2 separate regions of the Homo sapiens genome follow, and region 1 is linked to region 2. The links come from fine-mapping of genetic effects on plasma protein levels. Region 2 holds a variant in brackets. A gene starts in the other region. All regions are shown on their reverse strands.

The links. A credible set is the group of variants that fine-mapping cannot tell apart. PIP is the chance, under the fine-mapping model, that this variant and not a neighbour inherited with it causes the effect. The UK Biobank Pharma Proteomics Project read protein levels with antibody pairs (Olink). The fine-mapping took linkage between variants from a reference panel, not from the people measured, so its PIPs are less certain.
Region 1: it holds the start of MEPE, and the variant in region 2 is the best candidate, but not a certain one, in a credible set for the plasma level of the MEPE protein (UK Biobank, PIP 0.90).

Annotation. Positions count from the first base shown.
Region 1 is chr4:87,825,353-87,842,155 of GRCh38, reverse strand. It overlaps MEPE (matrix extracellular phosphoglycoprotein), which reads right to left and starts at 9,187. Exons shown (of 4, transcript NM_020203.6): 1 at 9,142-9,187; 2 at 7,388-7,453; 3 at 3,471-3,524. The coding sequence starts at 7,441.
Region 2 is chr15:67,117,584-67,125,583 of GRCh38, reverse strand. All of the region lies in intron 1 of SMAD3 (SMAD family member 3), which reads right to left. Among named protein-coding and RNA genes, the nearest start is that of SMAD3-AS1, 25 kb to the left of the region's middle. RefSeq lists enhancers at 4,210-4,649, 4,628-5,485. The variant A/C (reference allele first, on the strand shown) is at 3,011.

The DNA of each region.
Region 1 (16,803 bases), not on the chromosome of region 2:
GCTATGGAAAGAACACATGCATTAGAATCAGTTGTCTCACTGCCGTTTATGGGCTGTGTGATCTTGGGAGCATTATTTTACTTCTCTGAGCCTTAGCTTTTTTAGCTGTAAAATAAAAATGATATCTACCTTTCAGTATTTTGGGGAGAATTAAATGATTTTTATTAAATAATGCATGTAAAGCATACAGAACTGGGCATAGCCCTTTAATGAATGATAGTTTCTTTCCTAGATAATATTAATGATAGTCATGTAATTACTGGATACACAACGGTTTTCCCAGTCTCTGGACTTCTCTAATATTGGTTGTAGAGGCAGATGAAGATGGACAAACTCTGGACCCCCCTGCTCTTGAATTGCCCAAGTGTCATCCTCGGGCTGTGTGTTCTGTAAGCTTGTAGCCGTCGATGGGATGTTATCTGAAATAGATTTTGATTGGACTCTCTCTTTTTTTTCACTCCCAAACAGAAGTACTGTTCTGCTTGGAGGACTGTCTGCTTTTATATATGTATCTTATTAACTGTTGGAAGTAGGCGGAAATGTTGAATCAGCTCACATTTGAATCTAAAATAAAAATGGCTTTTAGAAGTGCCCTCTACTTTTAAGAAGCTAGCTAATATATGGTCTGCAAAAGTGCCAATGTATAATATTTGTAAAATATAATTTGAAATTACTTATTTGTAAAAGTTATGGCATTATTGTTCATTAATTTTTTAATATTGGTGGGTATATTCTGAAATACGATTTTGCCATAAGAAAAAAATAGAAATAAACTTTGTAGTATATCACTAAATAAAAAGTATTTTAAATATTTGACTTGAGTAATTGAGTCCTGGAAAGTTTTACTTGGACATTTATGTTTTCCTTTGCAATCAAGTTCATTGTTGTTTGTTTACTCATTACTAAGATAACCTTTTGAGTTAAACACTAAATCTAAACTCAGTAGATTATAATAATCTCTTCCTAATTTTTTCTCTCCCTTGTCTGAAGTGGGAAGTTATGTTTTATTTTCGGTGCTTCTCTGCTTTTAAAAAAGTAACATGTACACTAATGAATTGTGTGCATTTTATTAGAAGACTGAGTAGAATAATTTTATAAATGAAAACATGAAACAACTTTTATCCTGTGGTATATGATGGCTATCTTTGCATTGAAGAAAATATCAAAAAATAGAAAAAAACTTTTCTTACATTTGCTTGTGTTAAATGATTTCTGACTGTTCGATGGTTTATGTACCAGTTGGCTGGCTGCTTTTCTGTGCTCTGCTTTTCTGTCTCCATGCTTTGGTTCCTATGAGTTTTTTCATGGAGAACGGCCTCACCCATTCACTTCTGTTTGCTCAAATCCTACTCATCCTCCATGGCCCCACACAATTATTTCCATTATGAACACCAGAGGCCAGGAACTAATTTCTTTCTACTCCAAGCCCTTAAAGCATGATCTTTTTTTTCTTCTCGGTACTACTCACATAGCACCTCCCACATTCTGTCTTGTTTTACAATAATTTTTGTAAGTGCCTTTTGTTTCTTTTCTAACTCTAAGATCCTGGAGAGAAAGAATTTGTTTTCTCCATCATTTTATCTCACATAGTATCTTACACACCAGTTAAGAACTCCACATATATTTGGCAAATGGATATGTTTTAACTTATTTATAGTTAGGTGTAGTCTTAGAGATGTCATCTAAAGGATATCGATGGCAGAAGAAAATAACATTCTGAAGGGAAACTATTACTTCCATGGGAAATAAAACCAGATTTGGAAAAAGTAAATAGCCCTTTTGCTGATGGCATTTCAAGCTATTTCCAGCCCTTTGGCCGATGAATCTACAAGAAGGGACTGAGTGAAAAGAATTATTGTCATTGTAGTGACAAGGGCCTCATTCTTTTACTTCTGAGCAACCCAACACAGATGGAGTTATCCATAGAATGAATTTAAGAGACAGTAAAATGTGTCACTCATTAGGCCAAAATGGTTTTTCCTCTTAGCCGTCCCCTGCTGAGATCCCCACCATCAGAGCATATGGTAGAATATGTCAAGAAAACTTTCTTATAAAACACCAAATGTTACTCAGAAGCAGTAACACAGCAGTCCATGGGCACCTGAGGTCCATGAGTATCACACCTGCAGCCACAGGTCCTGAAGCAGAGCGAGATGTGGGCCGAGGCATGGGATGGGGATCAGGAAGATTCTGGGACCCAGAGTTTTGTAGTAGAGAGGCTTGAGGAGCCTGGGGAGGGAGGGAAGGGACAAAAGTGCCAGCCATAAGACAGAAACCCCAGAGCAAGCAAAAGTAAACTTTGCCTCCCCTACATTTTCCTCTAGGGCTAGTCCAGAGTTTAGTCATGCTGAGAATGGTCATTCAGAGATTCAGCTTACCTTTACATCAGTTTGATTTTTCTTCTCAGGTGACATGTAAACACACTTAAAAACATAATGCCCATGTTTCTCATAGTGACCCTTGTATGTTATCTACAAAAACACAACATTATATTGAGGCACGTTTTATCTCTTACAAAGAAGTTTTTGGGCTCTTTGTAATAATATAAGAAACTTTAAAAGTTGGGTGAAGTTGAATTCTACCTCTGACAAATGGTAGTACTTCTTATAACCACAGGAGGGTGTGTGTCAGCCGGCTCCCGAAGACAGCAACTTGTTCCTTCTCTTTTCTACATAACTCTAAATCTGTTTTCCCTAAGGGCCTGTCAACTGCTTTCTGTCCTAGGGTGGATCGATTTTATTACCAAACGTCTATGGAAATGGAGCATGTGGAAATATTTTCAGGTGGGAGGGGGTGAGAGGACCAGGAGAAAGACAGGATTTACAATATTCATGTCTGATGTCTAATTGGCAAAACTCACAGCATGAACATTCAGGCTCTTAAGCTGGCAACGTTGGCCTTTGTAATTTTCAGCTGAGATGAAGTACAGAAGATTGTTAGTTCTTAGAACATAATTTTCTGTGATAGGCAGAAGCAAGCTGCAATTTGGTGGCATGCAAAGCGGGGAGGATTCATTTAACTGGATGCATATGGAAAGCTGACTCCACGGACATAGAATTCCCCATTCAGATCTGATAGCCACCTTCCCCTTTACTCCCTTATTTATCATTCTGAGAGCAAAGTGTTTGTCAGGTACATGTGTGGGAAAATATTGTTTGCTAGTAGCAATGTTCCCAAATTCTTACTCACTTAGCCCCATGAAGGTTGCCTGGCAAAGCATTGTTTCATTTGAAGGAAGAAATCATACTGGGGAGAAATAAATCTCTATTCACAATGTTTTCCTCTTTTCTGTCACACATGGTGTGTGAGTTACAATACCTGATTGACTAGAAAGTGCCAACATTATGTTGTATATTTTTTCACTTCCATTCAAAGTGCCCAAGACTATTTTGACAGTTACACTTTTCTCTTACTGACTTTTTCTTTATAGAGCTGAAATAGAGTTATTTGAAAAGATGAATTCTGTTTACCCTCTGCTCTTCCACACAGCTTTGCTTAGTTTTCTCAGTCTGTGGTTGAAATGTCTGAAAGGAAACAAGAAACAAAACTTCACCCACTAGAACATTCTATTTCATTAACTTCTTCAAACAAATGTTTCATTTATTTTTCTCTCACTGAGTTGTATTATTCACTGTGGAAAATCATTCTAACCAAAAGAAGATTGACACACTCATCGCATTAATATAATATTTGTTTCAATATTACGAAAGACAGTGCCAGCTTTCTGCCCCCAGAGGGAGACAGTGCCGTCTCCACTACAGAACTGGATTCAAGCTCAGACAACCGCTAAGTGGGTGTGGTGGGGGAGTAGGGAGGGATGGCACCCCAGACGAAGGAGCTTGGCTGCCATCAGAATCCACTGAAAAAGAAGTTTTCACTGGCAAACTGGGAGTTGTTAAATATAAGTGAACTAAAATCAGAGTTTGACGATTTAAATTGTGTGTGTGCATTAATTATATAAGTTGAGTAACTGTAATATTGAATTAAGATATGATGCTGCTGATGGCCCAGGGAGAGTCAAACCATAGCCGTTCATGTGAATGGTAGGATCGCAATTAAGGACAAAAACTTATTGCTGCCAGATGTTACATTCTGAGAAGGAAAAATGGAGGTGGCCAGCAGATTAGGATAAATTCTGTTTCTTGGTTTGACATAAAGTGTCAAAATTTCTTGAGGGTAGCGTAGGGTGAGGGGTAGCTATTGAAGCGCAGAAAGGGCAGAAATGAAGAAAGAACAGACCTCGGCAGTTTGTCCCAGTCCTTTGGGCTGAAGTTTGCATACCACAGGAAAGCACACAGAACAGGGACCCTAAAATCTGAGAGCAACTGTTTTATTAAAGGAATAGATGTAAGTTCTTTAATTCTCAGTATTTTTCATTTACCTCTTTCTTTCAGAAACTCCTAGCCTATCTCAGATGTGGCACTGGGAACCAATGGGCGGACTGGGCCGTGTTTGAATGGGTGTGCTACAGTGGAAGCAGGCATCATGGTGGATCAATCATATAAAAGAGAGAACCCCTTAAGGGAAAGATTGAATAAAGAGATAAACAGAAAGAGGGCCGCCTAGGCCAGCTGTCCTATTTACCTGGAAAGTGTTCTTCCTGAAGAAGCCTTAAGCTTCTATATTTTGTTTAATACAGACAGGTTGTTGCTTGCACTAAGATATTGGGAATGCCCCTGCTTGCTCTCAGCTCCTTTGTATCTCCAGCTCAATCTGAACTGATTCCTTCATTTCCCAAGCTCATTTGCCCTCTGTGTTCAGACTGGGTTTGGGTGAAGGAGGCCTGGCATGAGTCTGGAGGGGGGGAAGGAGAGAGAAGCCAGGGTATGTCCTTCTCTACTCTCCGTGTTTGGGGCTGCATCTCTAGAGTTGGGTACATCTCCTTTGTGGTCCTAGTTCCCCCAGCCAGGGGCCTAGGAGCAGCACCTTTTTTTTTCCTTCCAGCCCTAAGCCTGGTAATAGCTTCGATCCTTGGGTGGTCTCACCACCCCTGGTTGGCTTTTCTGTTCTTCCTTATACTTTATAGCTAGCTTCCCTTAGAAAGTCGCTCTACTGAGCTCCCTGTAGTGGATTTTGTTTTCTGGACTGGACTCTGGCAGATAAAATCATCTTCAAAATATAAAACTCAGAAGTTTAGAAAGCACCTCCATGGCTGGACTCCAAGGCATAGCTGCCTAATATTCAATTCCATTCTAGAAAATAACAATAGTTTATCAATAACACCTTCTATTTATAGGACTCTTTATAGTTTGTAAACTGCTTTTGTACTTATAATCTCATATGAGTCCCAAAGTAACCTTTATAAGATGAGCAGTAGAAGAAACAGAAGTGCCTACACTCATAGTTGGTAGTTGCAGTAGAAGTAGAGAAGATATTTTAATTTAAATCTTCTGCCTCAAAGTCCCAGGGTTAAAATAATAAATTTTTGAATGATTAAATATGAAAAAGCATTTAGTAATAAGAGGAAATGTTCCTAAACTTTATATTAATTATCGTCAAGGCATCTTTTATAGTTTTATCCTTTATTGCATTTCTTATGTTGATTCTTATATGATCATGTGAATATAAATTTGGACAATTATATCACTCTTCAAAAATATAAAACCAGGGCAAACAGTTCTGGAAATTGGACTATAGGAAGAAGAAAGCATAAAAATGAGATGGGCAGATATTAAGCAAAAGAAAGAAATGATAGTATGGGGTGTCAGGGATCTTCTTACAGAACACACACACACACACACATATGGATTAGAAACATACTTGACAATATAGAGTACCTCGGTACAGTTTTGATTTATTGTGACTTATAACAAAGTCTTTCTAGTCTAACTGCATCTTGATGAATATTAACCGAATTGCATAGCCTAATAAACATTCATTTTCTTCCTTTTAAAAATCATTTAGAATTTGGCTTATAATTCTAAGACGTATGCAAGTGGCTGAGTATATACTAATTTCTTAAGCCACCAATCTATCATTTAAAAATTCAGGTAATTACTAAAATGGCATCTATATACCTGGAAGAAAACATCATATTTAATGATTCACAGTTACAAATGTTGCCTCTGCATCCTTGCTGAGCTGCTTTCATTTGAAATACGCATCCCTCCCTTGTCCCCTCTATACCCCCAAGCAGATGTCTTAGGCTTGAATGTGGCCCTGTAATGGAGATGGCATTGTCTGCCTCTGGGCAGGAAAGCTGGCATCCTCTTCTGATCAGTGGTCACTGAATCAATGTTGACATAGCACATTTACTGGAAAATGATGAGAAAGCCCCACTCCAGCTGCTTCTTGGAACATGTTGCTCAAAATAAAATCTTCAGCTGGCCAACTTGAGCTAGGTCAGCAAGACTCATTTTTCCACCGTGAGAGGTGGGAGAGGCACCTGAGCCTCTAGGCCTTGATTGAGTGAGGTCTGTGCATGGGGTCTCGCAAATGTGTGTTGTGAGCAGTACAGCCTCCACAGTACTGTACTGCACACCCTTGTTGCACAGAGTGTGTGCGGAGAAGGGAACACATTTCCCCAACTTCCACTGCCCTCCATGAGGCCCTCTGCTTCCCTGGTCATCCTCATCAGCCTGGTTACCCTAGCAGTCACCCACTCACTCAGGACCTATATATAAGTATGATTGGCAATGGGATGACTATTTGTTTCCATGGTTCTCCAACCAAAAAGGTTATTCTGATAAGTTAGGATGCTGCTCAGACATTATCTAATTAGCACTGTGTCTGCATTGCAGAAAATAACTAACACTCAGCATTTTCACAAGATAATTTGGTCACATCCTGAATATTCAACTGGGTGAGTCAGAGGGAAGAAAAGACACACAAGGAAGTAGGAGCTTGATTTGGGTTAAGCTTGGAGGTACTACGTCCCACCTCTAGCCTCGCTGATGAAGAGAAAATCACAAGTAGGATCCCACAGTATTGGGGTGTTGCAAGAAATACAGAAGAGTTCTTGTCTCTTTGCATTTTTATCTATTTACTAAATCTAGCTGGTTAGCTTTAAAACATTCATGTCAAATTCTTTAAGTTTACAGGAAAATAGTCAAAGATTATTTTACCATGTTATAATTTGAGTCTTTGAGTATCACTCATTAGTATCAGCTGATTTGAAATGCTGCGGCTGCCTCTTGGTTTTCTCAAAAAATCTGTTTTTGGTGTTCCTTAAAAGACAATGTTGTCAGATCTCATAATTCAGCACATGTTTATTGAGAACCTCCTTTGTTAAGAGTGTTAAGTGCTAGATGCTTTCTGTTTGCTTGGTTCTTTTTAAAATAACTGAATTAGGTAGATGCTACTAATTTAAATAGACGTTGCTTGAAAGAAAAACAAATGAAGAGAGCAAGAGATTATCTGAAATATAATTGAATTTGTAAATACTTACTGGTGCTGCCCAGGTCACACTGAAAAGGAGTAGTCCCACACAGAAAACTCGCATCTTTGAGAATCTCTGTAAAAAGACAACAATATCTTACCACAAAGCATTGCCAGTTATAAACTGCAGCCATAAGAAGAGATAAAACACATAGGAATATATAAACACCCTTCCCCTTGGCAGTTCATATCCTTTTGTGTATGTGTGTGTATAGACTATGTATAACTTGCTTATACCCGAGTGTGGACATTTTAAGAACTTTCATATGTCTAGTTATTCCAATGTGAAAATGAAAATTATTCAATATCATTAAAACAGTAAAGTCAGTTGATAGAAATATATTTTATAGACACATTTATTTGCTCTATCATCAGCTCTTCTTCCTCTTGTCTTTAGAAAGAGATTGTTTAATTATTTGTGTAATTCAAAATGACATTAAGTTGATGTAGCAGCTCATAACACACTCTAAGTTTGTCAGGGTAGCAGATTGCACTGTGAGGAAAGCTTATCTGCCTCCGGGCTGGTGCCCTAATCTGTGTCTCATGTTCATTAGCAATGTGTCTGAATTAGTAGCCATCCATGGGCTGGAGAGTGAACTAATTTTTGCAACACTGACATTAATGGCTAACATTTATTGAATACTAAAATGAGCCAAGCACTGGGTCTAAGAATTTTGCATGCATTCAATTATTTGAGCCTCACAACAACCCTACAAGTTAGGCGGCGTTACTATGCCTGTTGTATAGATTAGGAAATAGACACAAAAAGATCAAATAACTTGCTTTAGAATTCACAAATATTAAGGGGCAGAACTGGGATTAGTATCCAGGCAATGTGGCTCTAGACCCAGTTTTCTTCATCAAGACTCTCTGCCACCTTAAATAACTTTCTATTCTTTTATCTTATTACAGAAAAATCCATGTACAGTTGACTTAAAGGCAAATCATATTTTATATTGGGCTCAACAAAATGATGTTCAAAATACTAACATTTAGTTACAAATAAAGGTATTTGTTTATATTTTGGTAAATATACCAACAGGAACTAGTGAGCTCACTTAAGTAGCCATTAGATTGGAAAAAAGTCAACATGTCTTTGGACTATTGATCTTATTATTATATTGTGAAAACAATAAATTTATGCCACTCTGAGATTTCTTGAAGAAAAACTTGTTTTTATGGGAAAAAATAATCTAAATATTCTTGCAATCTTTAAACACCTCAAGGAAAAGCTGGTATTTGGAGAAATGATTGTAACTATTAAATATATTCTAAAATCCTAGGCTATGTTTTTCTAAATTAATGCAATTAGAAGGATCTAAATTCTAACTATAGTTTACCCTTCCAAGCATTTTATAGATCAGGACAACGTAAGTAACTTATGAAATGAGTTAATGCTCATCAGTAGAAATATCAACACAGATGAGGTTTCAAAGTATGAATAAGATCAGATTTTCCTGATTGCAGTTTGTTAAGTGAAGGGATAGAAGAAAACTGAAGTCTGAGTTACTGTGGATCTTGATAATGCTAATAACAAAAAAAAAGAGAAAGTTGCTATCAAATCATCAATTTTAGTTGATGATTTCTAGAGCATGGTAACGCATTTCCTATTTTATAAAACAAAGCACCAAATATTACACAGTTTTGCTCAGTAGAGAAGATTTTCAAAAGTAATAAAACCATACTTGGGTGGCAAGCATCTTAAAAACGTAAACAACTATGATATAAAGCTATTTGCTGTCAAGAACATGAAAGCCAAATTACCTGGTATCTTTCACCTTCAGAATACCTGGCTTCTTGTTGCAGGATTAGAAGTCTCTGGGCATTTTGCTGAAATTTAAAGTTTGTTAGAGTTCCCAATGGCCAATCAGCACTGGCTCACTCAGCGCTAGCAAACAATTTGTTACAAGCGCCCACAGATAACCATAGGGGGTGAAGTAATTTTAATCTAAAAATGTGTTTGTGGTAGAAAGCTACTATCAAATGTTCCAGAAAGTGGGATAAACAGAAAATATAAATACCTCAGTTTGGACATCATGTTGTCAGATAATCAAAATTGATTTCAGAACTGCTAATTAGGACTGACTGAATACCTAACAAGTTTAGAAATGGAAAACATTTTTGCTATCCTTTTATGTAGAAAGTTTATGATGTCAATTTTATCTAAGTGAAATTCAGCAACATTTAACAAAAATGTTTTAGGTGCCTACTGTGTGACAGGCATTGGCGAAACTGCAGTGAACAAAACAAGACAGAAAAAAATCCCTGTCTTCCTGGAGCTTAGAATCCAATAAGGGAGACAGATAATAAACAAGATAAATGAGTTAAATAGATTAGATAGTGACATATACTAAGTCTAAGGAGAAAAAGTATTGTTGGGGAGTAACAAGCATTGGGGGTGGGGACACTGGGTTGAAATTTTAGATAGGAAGTCCTGGGAAGGCCTCAATGAGAAGGCAACTTTTGAGTAAAGACCTTGTTATGGTTTCAATGTACGTGTCCCTCCAAAATTCCCATGTTAGAACTTAAACCCAAGGTGACAGTATTGAGAGATGGGCTCTTTAGAAGGTGATTAAGTCATGAAGGCAGACCCCAGTATGAATGGGATTAATGACCTTATAAAAGGGCAAGAAGAAACTAGCTAGTCCCTTTTTGCCCTTCTGCTTGTCTGCAGTGTGAAGACACAGCATTTGTCCCCTCTGGAGATGCAGTAGCAAGGTGCCAAATTGGAAGAAGAGATAGACAGCCCTCGTCAGGCAATGAACATGCTGGCCTCTTCATTGCGGAATTCCCAGCCTCCAGAACTGTGTGAAATAAATTTCTGTTTTTTATAAATTACCCAGTCTGTGGTATTCTGTAGTAGCAGCATGAACAGACTCAGATAAGCCTGCAGCCATATGACTGTCTATGGGAAGACCATTCCAGGAAGAAGAAATAAGAAAAATAGTGCCCCAGAAATAAAAGCCTTGTGACTTGTTCCAGGAACAGAGAAGAGGCCACTTTGGTTGGAGGCCTGAGCAAGGGGAATAGCAACAAATGAGGTCAGAAGGGTATTAGATGGCAGATGGTATAGGACCTGTAGGTCATTGCAATGCTTTTGACATTGCTATGAGTGAGAAGAAAAGTCCTTGGAGGTTTTAAGCACAGGCATGATTGAGGAGTGACTGAAGTAGGAAAAAGGCAGAGAGAATGGCTAGGAAGCTCTTGTAATAATCCCAGCCAGAGATGATGGAGGCTTGAACCTGAGTGCGGCAGAAGGGATGATGAGACGTGGTCATATTCTGAAGAAGTTTGGGGAAAAATGGTAATAGGATTTGCTGAGGTACCAGATGTGGCCTGTGAGAAAACAATCAAGAATCAGGATGACACCAAGGTTTTGACCTGAGCAACTGGAAGAGTAAAGTTGATTTTTTCTTCATATTGGAAAAAATGCAGAAGAAAATGGTTTTGAGGAAAATATTGTGAGTTTGGATTTAGACAAATTTTATAAGATGGACAATTTAAGACACTCAATTTCTTAATGAAACAAGTAACAAACCTATACTAGAATAAGCCTTTCCAGTGCGATTGCCTGCTCTCTTGTTTTGCCCAAACTGGCTACCAAAATAATTGTAATAGTTTGAGAGGTTCCACTTAATATAAAAATATTATAATACCTGTAAAGGTCATTGACATTATGACTATATATTAAAGCATCAATAAGAAATTATGTAAGAGTTATTTAACCTATACTTTGTGATAAGAACTACCTACAGTGAAACACACCTTTAACAGTTGTATATTATATATACAAATGATATATAATAAGATTTAAGTGTAAACTGTCAATTTATCTCAACCCTCCAAATAGACAAAAACCAAAACATAAAACACAAACAAAACAGTATTTCATAAGTTCTACCTGAGAAAATGGTGCCTTTTCTAGGTCAAGCTAACTCTCTCTTTTTTTTTTTTTATCATATCTAAATTCTGCTGTTCCTCTTTTGAGTATCCAGAGCTGCTTTTCCTCCTCTCCCTCACCTCATGTCTTCTTGTTAAAAAAATTTTTATTTAGGTTTGGAGGTACATGTGAAGGTTCATTACATAGATAAACACATGTCCCTGGGGTTTGTTGTACATATTACTACATCACCCAGGTATTAAGCTCAGTACCCAATAGTTATCTTTTCTGTTCCTCTCCTTCTTCCCACCCTTCACCCTCAAGTAGACCCCAATGTCTGTTGTTTCCTTCTTTGTGTTCATAAGTTCTTATCATTTAGCTCCCACTTATAAGTGAGAACATGTGGTATTTGGTTTTCTGTTCCTGCGTTAGTTTGCTGAAGATAATGGCCTCCAGCTCCAGCCATGTTCCCACAAAGGACATGATCTCTTTCATTTTTATAGCTGCATAATATTCCATGGTGTATACATACCACATTTTCTTTATCCAGTCTGTCACTGATAGGCATTTAAGTTGATTCCATGTCTTTCCCATTGTGAACAGGGCTGCAATGAACAGCCGTGTGCATGTGTCTTTATGGAAGAATGTGTTATATTCCTCCGGGTATATACCCAGTAATGGGATTACTGGATCAAACAGTAGTTCTGCTTTTACAGAACTGCTTTTAAGAACATCTTCCAGGACTAGGTTTGAGCTATTGGGTGGGGCCACTGTTGACTTACAACCATTCAAGCATAGATTTTAGAATATTTGAATATTGTCATTGACAGTGGAAATATTGAACTCTAGAACTCTAGTAGCTTTGGAGGCAAACAGACTTGAGTTCAAATCCTGACTCTACCACCTGTTTACTGTGGCAAGTTGATTAAACAACTAATTTGAACTTTTCTGTGCCTCAGTTTCTCCAACTGAAAATAAGGAGCACAGTATCCATGACCAGAATTTCAGCAAAGTCCAAAAAAAAAAAAAAAAAGGATTTGGGTGATATAGAAAGGAGCTAACAAGGGAATGGAAGTCAAGGAAGGAAAGAAGGCAACAAAGAGTGTTCAGCCAACTCTGAGACTGAATGGAAATATAGAGCTTTCTAAATGGAAGACAAGTGAAATCCACAAAAAATGCTCATTTTCAACTTTGGATATGCTATTGAAGCAATAAATAATTCAGGAATTTCTATAATAATGTGTATATAATGCAGTGTTTTAAGCTGTTACACTGTTTCATAACATTAACTTTATATTTTGAATGATCCAGTTATAGAGCAAACACTTGATATGTGCCTTAGGAAATGTTCATTTTTTTATTGCTATAATTTTATAAATAATTTCAGATATTCCTCAAATGCATTTTTCTTAGTTTCAAATAAATTTCAGTGTGCATGAAAAAGATTTCCCTTTCATTTGAGTGATGGAAAATTAATTATGATCTAGAAAAACCTGTGTTCTAGGATAAGAAAATTTATAGAGTTTTAAGAGAAAAAAACTGGCTTAGCTACTAGTCCTACCAAGGGGTGAACTGGCAGTAGCTAAATATACTGCTCTCAAAGCTAAAATGAATTCAAAGCTACATAAAAAAATTCAACTTGAGTTTTAAATTTAGAACCTACAATTGACAAAAGCAAAAAAAAATGAGAGCCTATTCTGGCTAGAAGGTTGCAGAGAAGAAATTCTGGGGAAAAAAAATTAGGAGAATGATCCTTTGCCTAAGTTCCATGCAGTAGAGATTTTTACTTCTACCCTCTTAAAACTTGCCCTCTGTGTTGAAATTGAACTTCAAAAACTCAATATAAGTTTCCTAAAGGTTATTGTATAATAGAGAGTTTTGCCATGGCATTTCTAAGGAACCAATAACTGAAGTTAAAACCAGGAGTCTGTAAAAAAAATATGTATCTTCACACCATCTCTATTTAACTGGAAAACAAAACAAAACAAAGAAAAATGGGAAACAACTGAGAAGGGAAAGAAATGGACACTTGAACTTTTTTCTGGTTCCTCGTTCCTGGTTCAAAAATGGACACCTCCACCAATGATGCACCTAGCCTGACTTTGCTGGGTCAGACTGACACACAGAGTTGCTCCTCAAAGAGAATCTGGAAGGAAGTACTCCATGGAACATGCTTCATCCTGTCGTGGGTTTTTCATTTCTTATCGATCACTTGAGTGTGAACAATCATATAAAATGCTAGCTAACTAGGAACCTATACTATCAGTTCCAGCTATTAGACTCTCACCCAGGAATAAGGCTTTTTTGTTTGTTTGTTTTATTTTCTCATCTATTTCTAGGACCCATCTTTTCTGTACTTGTGCTCTGGGATTAATTGCTTTGGTATACATTTTTTTTTAAACTTAGTATTCTAGGAAGTCCTTTTTCCCCTGCTATCATGGTCCCCAATTTATTCTTGACTCTATTAAGGTAACACATTTCTCTGTCATCATTTTAGACAGACTCACACAATACACTTTTCCATATGTTCTAACTAAAATAAGTTTCTGTTTTACATATACAATATACTTTTCTGTATGTTCTAACTTGCCAAAATAACTCTCTATCTTCTAATTTACATACATTACAAATATACAGTATTTCCCCTCCTGGATCAGTGGGGAAGTCTTTGAAGTGTTGTGAATAGAACAGAGGGGTCCATGTTGAGTAATCTCTTCTTTACCATACAGATGCTTAGATTGGTCAAGGCTTTAGGCATTTCATAGAAGTATTTACTTCCCACTGATATCCAAAATAAGAGTCCAGAATGAGTGTGCTGGGAGTCTTGCCCTGTTTTTAGCAGAAGGAATGTTTTCATTTTAAACGTGTTCATTCATGAGTATCAATAATCATCCTAAGCTCAAAAAGGTCACCTTTTCTAAAGCATCACTTACAACCAACTTTCTCCTTTACCCTCAAATTAATTTTATTTTTAGTTATTATTTTTTCTGTCAGCATTTGGGAATTTCAACAGAAGCCATAAAAATTTCAGCCAGATGCAGAATCATGGAGGGTCACAGCAGAGCATGAAGTTAGCTGTGTTCATTCCTCTGGGCTTTTTGTTTACCCATTCCTCTATTACAAGCAAAGAGAAGACATGTCAATATAATTTGCTTTTATTTTTATATTAGAGAGATGTCTTACTCCACCTTAAAATGTAACTCAGAGGATGTAGTTAAAATATAATTATAATGATGCTAGCCCTTTCCTTCAGGACATGGTGACATTGCTGGAAGTGGCTGCAAAACTTTGTTGTGTGACCTCAAGAGGAAAATATCTCTTACCCTCATAATAGTCTTTTTCAGAGGTTGCTGTTTTGTTTTTCAAGACCAAGAATCTTCTTCTCAGGATACAGAACTTGAGGACTTTTACCAGCTAGCTATTCATTGTATCGAACATGTATTAATATTTTCTTACCAAATTAGGGTGTATATCGTCTTAGCTTATTTTTAATTCCATGTTTATCTGCATTGTGTTATCATTTTATTTTATCTCTTTTTTCATGAATTCCTTAATTCTCACCAACCCAGATTTTCTCTATGCTTGTCAGTTCCTGTTCCAGTTATCTGTTGCTATAAACATACCACCTTAAAACTTTTCGTAGTTTGAAATACAAATTCACTGTTTTCTCTCAAGGTTCTGTGTGTTGACTTGGCTCAGCTGCATGATTCTCACTTGTGATTTCTCAAATGGCACAGTCAGAGATGGGGTGCAAGAGTCATCCCAAAACTTGACTGAGCTGCACATCCGATATGCCACAGTGCTTCTCCACATGATCACTCTGTCCTGCAGAATAGGCTGGACTTCCTATATGGTAGCTCAGGATTTAAAATGCTCAGTCAGAAATGGGATCTAATTAAACTAAAGAGCTTCTGCACAGCAAAAGAATCTATCATCCGAGTGAATAGACAACCCACAGAATGGGAAAAAATGTTTGCAATCTATCCATCTGACAAAGGTCTAATATCCAGAGTCTATAAGAAACTTAAACAAATTTACAAGAAAAAAACAAAAACCAACAGCCCCATTAAAAAGTGGGGAAAGAACATAATTAGACACTTTAGAAAAGAAGACATACATGTGGCCAGCAAATACGTGAAAAAAAGCTCAACATCCCCACTGATCATTACAGAAATGCAAATCAAAACCACAATGAGATACCATCTCACACGTCACAATTACTATTATTAAAAAGTCAAAAAAACAACAGATGTTGGTGAGGCTGCAGATAAAAAGGAATGCTTTTACACTGTTGGTGGGAGTATAAATTAGTTAACCATTGTGGAAGACAGTGTGGCAATTCCTCAAAGACCTAGAGGCAGAAATACCACTTGACCCAGCAATCCCATTACTGGGTATATATCCAAAGGAATGTAGCAGATCACGAGGTCAAGAGATCGAGACCATCCTGGCCAACATGTTGAAACCCCATCTCTAGCAAAAAAAAACAAAAACAAAAAACAAAAACAAAAAAAAAAACTGTTGTGGTGGTGTGCACCTGCAGTCCTAGCTACTTGGGAGGCTAAGGCAGGAGAATCCCTTGAACCCGGGAGGCAGAGGTTGTAGTGAGTGGAAATCATGGCACTGCACCCCTGCCTGATGACAGCGTAAGACTCTGTCTCAAAAAAAAAAAAAGAATATAAAGAATATAAAGCATTCTATTATAAAGAAACATGCACATGTATGTTTATTGCAGCACTATTCACAATAGCAAAGACATGAATGTGCATCAATGATATACTGGATAAAGAAAATGATATAAATGCCCATCAATGATATACTGGATAAAGAAAATGTGGCATGTGTACACCATGGAATACTATGCAGCCATAAAAAAGAATGAGATCATGTCCTCTGCAGGGACATCGATGGAGCCAGAAGCCATTATCCCCAGCAAACCAATGCAGGAACAGAAAACCAAATACTGCACGTTCTCACTTATAAGTGGGAGTTGAATAATGAGAACACATGGACACAGGGAGGGGAAAAACACACACTGGGGCCTGTTGGAGGTGGGGTATCAGGAATAATAGCTAATGCATGCTGGGCTTGATACCTAGGCGATAGGAGGTACTGTGCAGTAAATCACCATGACACACATTTACCTGCGTTAACAAACCCGCACATCCTGCGCATGTACAGACCTTAAAAGTTGAAGAAAAAAAGATAGTCGGTTAAAAATTAATTAACTGGATTTGTTGGTCTAAGAATAAAAGTTTCCATGCAAATTGAAAGCAGAGATTGACAGGCTAGTTTTATGGCCTAAGCCTGGGACTGTTGCACAGTTACTCTCCACTTGTTCGTCAAAACTGTCAGATTGAAGCGGGTGCAGAAATAGGCCTCACACCTTGATGGAGAAGTGGCAGCCTCACATTGCAGAATAGCTTGAGGAATGGGAGATAACGTTTCAGTCATTTTTGGAGAATACAGTGTGCCTAAGACATACCCCGGGTGTAATTCAGGTATTGGGCATTCACTGACAGTTATTCTCAGAATGTTTGGTGTAC
Region 2 (8,000 bases):
TAAAGTGAAAAGGCCCAATAACGCCTAAAAAGTGGTTAACTCCTATCATTCTGTTCCCACCGGCTTCATCCACCCACGGTGGGCTACAAGAGTGGTCCTGAGGCCAGGTCACAGGACTGACATCTGGCTCAGCCAGTAACAATGAGGACAGAGGTCCATGCATTCACTGGGACTGGAGAAGGTGGAAAGCAAATGTCCTATGGGGTGATCCCAGAGAGAAGATCGTGGATCTAGCCACAGAAAGGCAACAGCGCTTCAAAGAGGCTCTCCGTACACACACTGGAGCCGCTCTTAATCTCTATAAAGAAAGAAGCGGGTGGATCAGCAACCAGAGCTGCCAGGCCAGGAGGTTCAGCAGCAAACCCAGTCAGTGCCCAAGCAAGAACTGTCCAGAGGGGAAGGTCCGGCCCAGCAGTGGGTGGGCCTGGATGGCATACGGGGATGCACCCAGCCACCAGGGCCTGTAGCCATTCAACACAACTGCTTCCCATGACTCCCTCCCTCCCTTTCCCCGACCCACCCAGCTCTCTGACCATTTGGCTGGTCGGGTGGGGTGCCCATAAGCAGACAGAGCACCCTGGTTATAACCTCACAGTGGTTACGCTTGTCAATAAATATGCTTGATGTATGCTTTAGCTTTTTGCTAAGAGACAGGAGCCCTGACTCCAAGACTGATGAAATGAGGTTTCTGAATTGTTCAGGCCAGGCTCAGATGCCAGGTAAATTCACCAAGCTCAGGTCCATCTTCTGGCCACCAGCCTCTCCCCGGCTGCCCTGTGCCACATCTTCTCTTCCAAGCCCTCTAGATGCCCCTCATTCAGGCACAGAGCAGAGAGGTTTTTCAAGATGTTTCAACATCACAGGTAGAGGTGTACCTTTGAAAGCTAATTAAAAGCAGAAACTTCACTGTCAGCCCTGTTTAATTTCTATTCAAACACAGTCTCAGATGAGGCCTTGGTCAGCTGTGTGACGTGGTAATGAGGCATTCTGCTGATGAATATTCTCATTCACCAAAGGACAACCAAAATCTTTTTCTTTTTCTAATTCCCTTTGAAAATATTTCCAGAAAGTATTTGTCTACTCTTCTTCCTCAACAAGTCCATCTTCTCTAAAGATAATAGATTTTTTTTTTTCTAAAGACTGACAATCCTCCAGCCTCTTGGACCCAGGTTGTGAAGTTAATTCTCACTGTGGAGATCAACAAGCTGTGTAAACTGCAGAGGTGGATGGCTGGCCGGGTCATCTAGACACCTCAGGGCAATCATTAGCAATGCCTTCTTTCAAAGGAACAAAAAAGCTGGGTGTGGTGGCATATGCCTGTAATCTTACCACTTCAGGAAGCTGAGGCGGGAGGATCACTTGAGGCCAGGAGTTCAAGACCAGCCTGCCCATGATAGCAAGACCTCTTCTCAACAGAAAAATACAAAAATTAGCCAGACGTGGTGGCCTGCTTCTGTAGTCCCAGCTAATCAGGAGGTCAAGGCTAGAGGATCATTTGAGCCCAGGAGTTTGAGGCTGCAGTAAGCTATCATTGCACCACGGCACTCCAGCCTGGGTGACAGAGGGAGACTCTGTCTAAAAATAAGAGACGAAAATCCAAAGGAACAAAAGCTTCTAAATAAAATCGACAACAACCTATTTTCCAGTGATTTGTTTCAGTCTATTCTACAGCATATCCGAAAGTTGGAAAGCAGGACACACTATTTTCCCTTTGTTTCCAGGCTTTTTGGATACTCTGGGATGTTTTATTATAGCTTTTCAGGTTAGCAGTTGAACCCACTGCTTTAAATGTAGAGGTCCTTCACCTAAAAAGAAGGCAAAGGGTTGCAGAAAAACATTGAGTATATTCTTTGGAAATGTCAAAAAAAGACTATTTCAAAATAAGTTTGTCCGTCTCCCAATTTTGGGGCATCCCGTCTATCTGAGTGCCTCCTATGTACTGGATTCTATACTGTAAAATTAGAATGCTGGCTGAAGGTGATGATAAGCTCATAATATTAATGGCTACTATTTACTAACACTTGTAATATGCTAGGAATTGCAGTCAATCTCAAACATGTTAGAATTCTTTTTTCCTTTTTTTTGAGACGGAGTTTTGCTCTTGTTGCCCAAGCTGGAGTGCGATGGCACAATCTTGGCTCACTGCAAACTCCTCCTCCTGGGTTCAAGCGATTCTCCTGCCTTAGCCTCCCGAGTAGCTGGGATTACGGGCGTGTGCCACCACACCTGACTAATTTTTTGTATTTTCAGTAGAAACGGAATTTCACCATGTTTTAGCTAGGCTGGTCTCAAACTCCTGACCTCAGGTGATCCACCCGCCTCGGCCTCCCAAAGTGCTGGGATTACAGGTGTGAGCCACTGCGCCTGGCTGATTTTTTTTTTTTTTTTTTTTTTTGAGACAGGGTCTCACTCTGTTGCCCAGGCTAGAGTACAGTGGCGAGTTCACTGCAGACTTTAACTCCTGGCTCAAGCAACCTTACACTGCAGCCTCCCGAGTAGCTGAGACCACAGGCTCACACCACCATGCCCAGCTAATATTTTTAATTTTTTGTAGAGATGAGATCTTGTTATGTTCTTGTTATGCTGGCCAGTCTGGTCTCAAACTTCTGGCCTCAAGCGATCCTCCCACCTCAGCCTCCCAAAGTACTGGGATTACAGGCATGAGCCACCATGCCCGGACGCAAGTATTTAAAACAAATTCACTGAGATATTTTATCCCTGTTTTACAGATGAAGAAACTGAGGACTTAGAATGTTTAAGTCCTTGTCTGAAGTCCCATAACTTACAAGTGGTGGGGCCAGGATTTGAACCCTGGTCTGTAGGATCCCAAAGCCCTATTCCTTACCACCCTACATAGGGACCACAGGGAACATCATTGCTCTGTGAAAAAAACCTATCCTTGTCTATGGAGTGATTACTTTCCTAAGAAAGTCAGGTAAGTCCTGGCTTGAAAACAAGTTTAAGAGCCAGCTCAGCTCTTAGCTAGATGCAAGACCCTCAGCATCCCCTC[A/C]CCTCTCTGGACCTCAGTATTTTGGGCAATGAAACTAGTATATCATTTCCTGTGACCTCTTTTGGCTCTAACAAATGGCCAAAAAACCCAAGAGATCACCAGCTCCATAAATCCCCCGATAGGAAATGGGCCAAAGGATTACCGTACGGAAAGCAGTCCTGACTTGCTCATTCCCAAACTCTGGTGAGGAAACCAAGAGAAACCAGCCACCACCCACAGCTGACAGGGTCTGGGGGGAACAGCAAAAGAGCTGACCCGCACAGTACCCCCAGGCTAACTGAAGAGTCCCTGAAGCCTACAGATCAATTTCTCTTTTCTAAGAAGGAAAGGGGAGTATAACCTTCAGTTTCCTCATGTGTAAAATGAAAAGGTTTCATCTGTTCATTCTTCTAAGTGGTCAACTTAACCTCTGTAGGACTCAGCTTCCTCATCTACAAAATGGGGACATATGTCCGGACCTTAGACCAGTGCTACCCAATAGAATTTTTGGTGGTGATGAAAACGTGCTGCTCTATATGAGCTGATCTGATGGCCACTAGCCTACCCGTGCACTTGAAATGCGGCTGGTGTGACTGAGGGACAGCATTTGTAATTGTATTTAATTTTAATGACCCAACATTTAAATAGCCACATGAGGGTGGTGGATAGGTATCGGACAATATAGCCTTAGACTGTAGTGGCAGGAATGAAATCAGATGGCATTTGTAAACTGCCTAGCACAGTGGTGGGACACAAAGTTCTGGAGGAAAAACATGCATGAATATGCAGAGGTCCTATCAGTAGAGATTTTTTTTTAAGCAAAATTTCCTCATATCAAGAAATGGAGGCACTAGAAGCTGACAAGCACATACATGGATGTGTTAGAAAGACCCAGAGAAATCAGGCATACTGTAGAAACCATTCTCTCGGTGTATAGACTAAATGGCTGAAGGTCTGTTTTGTTTTCTTCACAAATGTTCTTGTCAGAAGATAAAAGAGAGCCGTTTTCAGCAAATCTAGGTTTTTATAACCCTAAACGCCCAGTACAAACTGCCCCAAGAGCAAGCTCTCTCTTCAACAAAACCTCCCGTCCTCCCAGGCAGCCACCCCCCGCCCATCTGCAGCCCTCCCCGGGGCCTCTGGGAGCTGCCCACCCAGAACGGAGTGCAACTGACATGTGGGGCACACCCTGCCAGGCACAGTCACTCGTGGGGGGAGAGCCACCCACGATGCCCTCAGGACCCACAAGGCCGGCTGGCAGTGGCCTGTGTCAGGAGTGCCCACCGGCACCCGCTGGCAGCCAGCCTGCGTCACAGCCCAACAGGAAACGAGGAGAAGAGAACACTGGGGCCGCGTGGAAATCCCCACTGGGCTCCACGCCGGAGGGTGACTCAGCGGGGCTGGCCAGCAAGCTGCCTCCCACCCCTCAGCCAGGACAGGGCGGGGGCTGCAGGAAACAGGCCTCCCGCCTCTCTGCAAAGGCTAAGAAGTACACATTCTTACATATTATTATGTTACAGATACAATCATGCCCTGCCTGAAAACATGCAAGACAAAGTCCCAACATATGAGATGGGGATTCAAGGTCCTTTTATAACAGAAAACGCACTTTCTCTAAGCAGGGGTGTCCGGTGTTTTGGCTTCCCTGGGCCACGATGGAAGAGTCGTCATCTTGGGCCACACATAAAATACGCTAACTAACGATAGCTGATGAGCTAAAAAATAATCGCAAAAAAAAAATCTTACAATGTTTTCAGAAAGTTTATGAATTTGTGTTGGGCTGCATTCAAAGCTCTCCTGGGCTACATGCGGCCCACGGGCCAGAGGGTGGACAAGCTTGCTCTAAAGGAAAGTCTTAGTTCAAGTCCTGGAGCAGCCATGAAGCTTGAAAAATTCCCTTCCCAATTTCCCAGGCCCAATTTCTTACCTGGTAGGGCCAGGGTGAGATTCCCACACTCTCCACGGAGTGTTCCCAGGCAACACCATTGCACAGTGCCTCTGCCCTCCTCGCAGCTAGCCCATCTGCCCTTCTAGACCACCCCACAGCACTTAGCAGTCTTAGATTATGGCGTTCATCATCCTAAACACAGACATTTTACCAGGCCTCCCACTCAGATACTGTCACCAGGACAGAGGCCATGCCTTACATCTCCAAAGTGAGTTTGATACATACAGGGGGTTTTAAAAATTATCCATCTATTGATCCAAAGAAACAGCATGGCATGTGTATAAGACTTGTTATCCTTGATACCCCTCCCCAACTCCAGGTCATGGCAGGGCTGCCTGAGCTGCCACAGGCTCTTATCACCTCTGTTCCCCACATCACGTTAAGCAGCCCAGGGCAAAGTCTGTCCCACACTGTTCCTCTTTTTCCCATAAAGTACCCAGTGTACTCCAGGGACTTACGGCTAGCAAAAGAAACAACAAGCAAGAAAGTGGGGAGGTCCTAGAAATCCACTCCTAGTGAGTTGCAAGAGGCTTACTAAACCCAGAGTCTTGGCCAGGGACAGTGGCTCACGCCTTTAATCCCAGCACTTTGGGAGGCCAAGGTGGGCAGATCGCTTGAGCTCAGGAGTTTGAGACCAGCCTGGGCAACACGGTGAAACCCCACCTCCACAAAATATACAAAAAATAGCCAGGCGTGGTAGCGTGTGCCTATAATCCCAGCTACCTGAGGGGCTGAGGCAGGAGGATTGCTTGAGCCTGGGAGGTCAAGGCTGCAGTGAGCTGTGATCGCACCACTGCACTCCAGCTTGGGTGACAAAGCGAGACTCTGTCTCCAAAAAAAAAATTCAAAGTCTTTACCCCTTGAAGTTACTAGAAAAATCCAACCTATGTTATTTCACTTTAAAAATATCAACTTGCTATGACTTTTTCCTTTCAGAAGCTCTCTTGGGCAATTCTACCTTTGGACTATAAGCTTCTTACAAAATAATTCATTTTTCCCATTCCCGAGTGTGTGCGGGTCTGAATTTTATGAATGTCTTTGGCAAGTCTGAGATAATTCAGCCAGGGTTCCATCCATCTGCTTCATAGACAGTTCCACTCACTTGGCCTCTGAAAGCACTCCATGCGCTCCCCACCCACGGTCAGCCCTTACCCAGGTCCCTCTCTGGCTCCCACTCTGTGGCACCCCCACCCCCGCCATGGCCCCAGCACAGCTGTGTGGCAAGAATAACCCAGCTCTCTGTGTCTACTGCCCACCTCCCATTGACTATGGGCCTCCCTGCAATGGGCTTCAGCCCCAACACTCCATCATGACTGCCCTTGCTAAGGTCACCTAGTGGCCTCCAGGTTACAGAATCTAAAACACATGGTTTTCAGGCCTTACCATTCTGGGTTCTCTGCAACATCTAGCACTGCTGCTCCTTTCCTCTTGCTGCAGGGTCTCGTCACTCACCTTCAATGTCACTGTGCACCATCTTGCTTTTCCTCTGTCTCTCCCTGCATTCCCTAAATGGGGCTGTTCTTCAGGTGCAGGTCTGGACCTTCTCATTCTACGCTCATATCCTCCCCAGCCCGGCCTCATCCATACAATGATGACTCACAAATGTATATCTCAGCTCAGACCTCTCCCCCAAACTCCACGCTCATCTATCCAGCTCCTTGGCCTGTGCTCCTGCTAATAGGTGCTCCGTAAATGTTTGTTGGTACACACCAACAGTTAACAAGCACCTGCTTGTGCATGATTCTGTGCTAGGTACAACAGGGGATGCATGTCCCTGAGCTCAAGGGACACAAAGAGGAAAAGTTAGGCAACATCAGAGAAAAGGCAGACCTCACCTGGCTTGGGTTCCCAAGGAAGGCACCATGGCAAAGACAGCATTTGGGTTGTGTCTTGAAAGACAGCTCAGAAACCAGCATTTTATCCTGCACAATGGGATGTTCACGACTCAGGACACCCACATCACATTGAGAGACTGTGAAGCCTTACCTAGCTATTTTAAACTGGTGTTTTGTGTTCCCATGCTGGATGAAAACCTCCTAGAGAAAGGCATTTTTTCTAAGCAGAGCTCCTTCCAGCGCCTTCCGTGACAATAGTGATCTCTTTACATCTCCCCTCACCCGATTCTAGTCTGGTATAAAAATGACACACCTTTGGACCCAAGTCTGCTGGCCCCAGTCCTGATCTTACTCTACAATGAGTTATTATCTTTTTGGAAAATATCAAAGCCCACCAGAAATCAAACAAAACAAGAACTTCTACTTAGTAGCAGAAAATACATGAGATCTGCTTTATCTAACCCTGGTAATAAACACTCTGAAGAGGAAAGCGCTATCCATATCTTTACTTATGCCACCTAGCCTTCTCTCAGTCTCCTCTCAGCTGGGCTGGACAGGCCCTCACTGGGCTCCCCCACTGCAGGGACCACACCAGATGACTTGTTCCGTGCCTATCTTCCCCGACGCTGTGAGTTAGTGGGCACCAATTGCTGTGCCAGGCAGCACCCAACACAAGCATGTTGAAAGAATGAATTTCAGACTCTCTCTTTTTTATTTTTTGAGACATTGTCTCACTCTGTTGCCCAGGCTGGAATGCAACGGTGCGATCTCAGCCCACTGCAACCTCCACCTCCAAGGTTCAAGCAATTCTCCTGTCTTAGCCTCCTGAGTAGCTGGGATTACAGGCACCCGTCACCACGCCCGGCTAATTTTTGTATTTTGGGCAGAGACGGGGTTTTGCCACGTTGGCCAGGCTGGTCTTGAACTCCTGACCTCAGGTGATCCACCCGCCTCGGCCTCCCAAAGTGCTGGGATTACAGGCATGAGCCACTGCACCCGGCCAAATTTCAGACTCTTACTAGAGAGTTCTGTACATTCTCATTACATGTGCTTAGTACTATGTGCTTCTATGTTATCATTAAAACATTACACTTGATCATGTTTCCAGGCATTTTTAAGCTAACAACAGCTCTCTATAAAGAAAGTTTGAAAATCCATGCTCGACAAACCACATCTCTTTCACAAGAGCTTGGAGGACTTCCCAGCAGGAAAGGAAACATCCTCACAC